Linked DNA regions of Homo sapiens: region 2 is linked to region 1. Evidence: fine-mapped expression QTL. Tissue or cell type: whole blood. Region 1 holds a variant in brackets; the other region holds the start of a gene. All regions are shown on one strand. Distances are between the middles of the regions.

What was found. PIP is the estimated chance that this variant, and not a neighbour inherited with it, causes the effect.
Region 2: it holds the start of ZNF180, and the variant in region 1 is fine-mapped to the expression of ZNF180 in whole blood (TOPMed, PIP above 0.99).

Annotation. Positions count from the first base shown.
Region 1 is chr19:44,464,889-44,467,579 of GRCh38, reverse strand. It overlaps the pseudogene ZNF285BP. Among named protein-coding and RNA genes, the nearest start is that of ZNF229, 18 kb to the right of the region's middle. The variant A/T (reference allele first, on the strand shown) is at 1,604.
Region 2 is chr19:44,499,256-44,501,946 of GRCh38, reverse strand. ZNF180 (zinc finger protein 180) reads left to right here and starts at 1,425. Exons shown (of 5, transcript NM_001278509.3): 1 at 1,425-1,672. RefSeq lists enhancers at 970-1,019, 1,196-1,490, 1,330-1,539, 1,550-1,609, 1,156-1,656 and 2 more.

The DNA of each region.
Region 1 (2,691 bases):
AATACCATAGTCTGGGTTAGATTAAACAAACAAAAGAAACTTATTTCTCACAGTTCTGGAGATTGGAAAGTCTAAGATCAAGTACCACCAAGATAGGTTTCATTCAGGTTTCTTCTCTTGGCTTGTAGACAGCTGTCCTCTCACTGTGTCCTTACATGGCAGAGGGAGAATGAGAGCAAGCTCTGTTGAGTCTCTTTTCATAAGGATACTAATCCTATTGAATCAGGGATTCCCAAAGGACAATATTAATCAAATTATAAAATATGGCCCAGGACACAGGCGCAGATAAATCTATACTAAGGTGTTGTGCTGATACATAAGTCCAGTAGTGTTTCATGAGTTCATTTCCCATCACACACCAAGGTTTGGTATTTTCACTTTTTCATGGCAGATTAATCTATTTTTATCATGTTAAAGGAAAGTAAGAAGACAGGGTAACTTAAAGCATTGGCTCCTAGATTCAAAAAACAGAAAAGGGAAGAGGGAGATTATTAGGATAATTTAGAACATTTGGATATCAACTATTAAAAAATAATGGTATCAATGTGAAATTTCCTGAGTATGTTAGCAGTAATGTGGAAATGTAGGAAAATGCTCTTATTCTTAGGAGATATAAACTGACATATTTAGGGATGAATTATAATGATGTCTGCAATTTATCCCAACTGGGTCATCAAAATAAAATATAGATATGTGTGTGTATATACACATATTATGCATATGTTTGTGGTGATTGTTAACAATTGGTGAATCTAGGTGAAGATTACACATTATGCTATTCTTTCATTTTCTCGATAAATTGAAATTTCTTAAAATAAAAGGATGCGGGGAATAATCTGATATTAATAACCATCTCCTAATCAAGACACCAATTTTTACATAAAATATTTCTATCACTGCATATGTCACACTGCTCAGAGTCGAGTATTTACAGATATGTTCTCTCAATAGATTCTGCATCTCTAAATAAAGCAGAGCTTTCAAACGAAAGTTGTAAGCAGTTATAAAGGACTTCAAAAAGAATATGTTACTAACAATTGTCCAATTACCAAAATCTGACAATGATTAAAAACAAAATCTAGGGGAGTCAGCACAGTTGTCCTAATAGCACTGCTCTGTCAGTAACACTACTGTATCCTTCTTCTGTGGGAGGCAACAAAATTGAATTGGAATTAATCATTCAGGAAATACAGATACCCTGAAGCCTACTTGGGGTGGTAGGAATCCTAGGCAGGGAATGCCATAGGATGCAGGTACAAGGACAGCCCCCAAATATTAAGAAACCAAATTTATAAACCAATAAATACATGCAAAACATCTTTAAATCTTTTCCTTTGTGAAGTATTCTTGTAAAACCATCTATGAAATATTCTTGTAAAACCTTGAACCTGAATCTATTCAAGCATCTGGTGCTTCCACTTACAAAAAATACTGTGGATAGAGTAACACACTGAAAGACACCAAAAGGAAGCAAACAAATGCATTCCAAATGTAGGAAAGAACACAGGACACCAAACTTGGTTTCTACGACAAGTCAACAGCAGGAGAGAATAAAGTAGATGGGCAGATTTCTCTAGATTAAAAGACATTATGAGATACAACA[A/T]CCAACTATATGATAGTATAGACCTTTTTAAGATCCCATTTGAACAAAGCAACTGTCAAAATTTTTTTGAGATAATCAGGGAAATTTGATTATTGTCTGGGTATTAGATAATACCAAATAATTATTGATTATCTCATTAGTCCATTTTTAAGGAAATATATACTGAAATACATAGAGAGTGTGTTAAATTAGATTGCTATTTAGAAATATCCTCTTCCATGCTCTCCAATCTCACTAAAGGACCAGAGTGTGTTTCCTTACCTCTTTAGTTTTGACTTGGCAATGTAACCTGCTCTGGCTACCAAAATGAAGCAAAAGTGATAATGTGCCAGTTCTAAGCCTGGGCCTTGAGAAATCTCACATGCCCACTTGCTCTCTTGCCCCTCTGTCTTTGCTATGAGGACATACCCAAGCTAACCAAAACCAGCAGAGTGCTACCAAATATTCATGGCATTGGCTTTAGGTCCAGGCCAAAACCATTGAGGACACTGTTACAGGAGGCTGGAAAAATGGTGACCTGGGTGATGCAGTGGTGAACATTTGGTGAACTGTTGCTGTAATTTAGAAGATAGAAAATGTACCTAATGAATCTTGGACTTGGGCAAGATGGTTTCCAGGCAGAAGGATAAAAGTGTGAGCTCATTCATTTTAGTTGCATATATAATAAGGTACTATACAAAAGTGATATGCTCAGAGAAAAACCAATACAGTGTAAAATACCATGCCTCTTTCAAATACTTTGGGAAAGAAAAATACTGAAACAGAGATTAAGCAAATCTCTTTGGCAAAAAGTTAATTGTTGAAACTGCATGATGGGTACTGCAAATGGAGGATCATAAGACCCTTTGCCCTTTTTTGTGTATTTTCATCATTAAATTTTTCATGATTAAAAGAAAATCCTTCTGCCACACTGTGATGGTCTTTTTAATGTGTCAATTTGGCTAAGCTACAGTCCTCAGTTATTGAATCAAACACTAATCTAGGTATTGCTATGAAGATAATTTGTAGATGTGATTAAAGTCCATAATCAGTTGACTTTAAGGGAGATTATTCTAACTAATCTGAGTATGTCTGATTCAATAAACTGA
Region 2 (2,691 bases), 34 kb before region 1:
CTACCTCCCTGGTAGGATGAAAATTAACACAACTACCTCATAGGCTGATTGGGCTTGGTAATGAAATATTAAAGTGTTTAATACAGAGACAGGAACCTTTATTTAGCCAACGAATATTTATTGAGCATCTATTATGTGCCAGGTCTCTCTCTTTTTTTTTTTTTTAGGTGTTGGGGATGCAGCAGTGATCAACATCGATAAAATGCTTTTCCTTATGGAATTGACATCGTAGTGGTAGGTCGGACAGTAGACCAAATAAATAATTAAAATATATAGTGTGCTAGATAGTGAAAAGTTCTTTAGAGAAAAAAATAAAAGATGAAGGGGGAGGCACAGAGCATGTGGGGAGGGAAGCGTTTGCTTGCAAGTTCACAACGGGTGGTGGGGCAATGCCTCATGAGAAGATGATATTCCCCTAATTACCAGACGGTGAGAGCCAAATGAATCCCTCAGGAGAGGCTGCTAGGGAGTGCAAAGAGCACCTGCAAACGACCAGGGGCTGGAGTCTGCTGGATCTGTTGGAGAATGGGGAAAATGTGCCAAGCAAATGGGCAAGAAATGAGGGCAAAGAGAAAAGGGGACTACGCCTGTAATCCCAGCACTTTGGGAGGCCGAGGGCGGATCACCTGAGGTCAGGAGTTGGAGACTAACCTGGCCAACGTGGTGAAACCCCGTCTCTACTAAAAATACAAAAATTAGCCGGGCGTGGTGGCTGGCGCCTGTAATCCCAGCTATTCAGGAGGCTGAGGCAGGAGAATCGCTTGAATCCGGGAGGTGGAGGTTGCAGTGAGCCGAGATCGCGCTATTGCCCTCCAGCCTGGGCGACAAGAGCGAAATTCCGTCTCAAAACAACAAAACAAAACAAAACAAAAACAGAGAAAAGGGGAGAGGTGGGGGGAACAGATCCTTCAGGCCTTATAGGCAGAGAAAGAACTCAAAATTTAAAAATAAAATGATTATATTTTAGTATTATTAAATGTAAAAACATAGATTCCTGAAGGGTTCGGTAGACGCTCCCTCCACTGTAAAATGGGGATGTCGCAACTGTCTCACAGGTTTCCCCTAGGACTAGAGGAGACAAGGGGTCGCGCGCAGCGTCTGACAGGCAGGGGGCACCCAGAAAGGGTCCCCGCCATTTCTATTGGATTCTGACGTCACGCCAGAGCGACTCCCCATGCGTCGCTGCACTGGCCTCGGCCTCCCGGCGCCGCGGCTGGTCTTAGTGCTCCCCCTAGACCTGCACATGCACAGGTGTGGCGCCCCCCCGGGCCCCGGACGAGGACGCCCTCTTAGCTTCTGGCCCGGTCCCCCGCCCCACTTCCTTGGAGAAGCCGGAACCCCGCCTACTGACCGTCCGCGCCGCGGAGGCTTCTGGGAATTGTAGTTCTGGCTCTCCGAGCCCAAGTGCACTTCCGGGTTCGGCCACAAGAGCAGCCATTGTCCCGCGCGCGGACGCTTGCTGTCGCCGAGCAGCTCGGCCCTTCAGACTTAACCCCCAGCGGCCTTGCGGATGCTGACTAGGAGAGGGGACCGAACTAGCTTAACCCGAGTCGGCCGTGTTGCAGAATCGGGGCAGGGGGTTGCCTAACCCGAGTTCGTCCTGCCGCAGAGCCGTGCTAGGCACTGAGGCGGTGACAGGCCCAGCCTGGGCTGCGGGCCAGCGGACGCCCAGGTTGGTAGGGGCGTGGGGCAGCGCTTGGTGTCCGATGCGCGCATGCGCAGGGTCTACGCGGGAAGCTGGAAGCGGTGGTGAGTGTAGCGGGGAGACCTGGTATCTGTGCGGGTGGCGCTTTAGCCTCGGGTCACCGGGGTTGATGGAGTTACTGATACAGCTGTATATTCCGCGACTGTCCTCTGCGTGCATGCGCGGGTGCTTGGTCAGGTGGTGCTCTTGTCTGGGGCCTGAGGATGCCCAGGTTGCTGGAACACAGGGCACATGCATTGATGTAAGGGGACATCTTGAGAACTCCCCTCCTCCAATGCCGGGCTTATTTAGTGGAGGCCTGAGGATGTCCGGGTTGATGGAGTGCTCCATTGCAGATTGTGGTTTCTGGAGAGGAGGGGCTGTGCCACTGTCCCTTTACTCTTGATCAGGTATTTGGGTAGGAAGCAAAAGGTTGTAGGTAAGATTCCGAGCAGGTGGCTCTGGGCCCCTAGAGCAGACAACGCGCTTCTCCAAGGTCTGGGGGCGCTGTGGTTGGTGGAGAGACCAGATTGGAGTTGCAGATTCTTGTGCCAGAAGAGGCAGTGTTGCTAGTGAACCCTTGGTGGGAATTACCCATGGGCAGCAAACTCCCAGGCTGAAGGAGGGTATCAGGGCCTAGAAACAGGTTCTGGGCAGAGGGCCCCCTGCACGTCCTGGGGGTGTCTGAATGGAAAACAGAAACTTGAACTGATAGTAGGGACCTATGTAGGATAGTGCAGAGCTCTAGAGCATTCAAGATGGGCAGAGACTCCGGGTTGGAGATACAGAATTTAAGTCCAGGAAGGACAGAGCTGCAACAGCTGCCATCAAATTGGTAGCTGGGGAGGAAGCAGTATGTTGCCAGCATCGTTATGAAGCAGGTGTTGCTGAGACCTTTACTTGGGTACGCTATTTGCAGGCGTGAGAATGTGCAGGTTAGTAGAGGGACAGAGCCTGTGCTGCAGATTTGGTCCCGGGAAGAGCTGACTGCACAACACCCAGGCCGT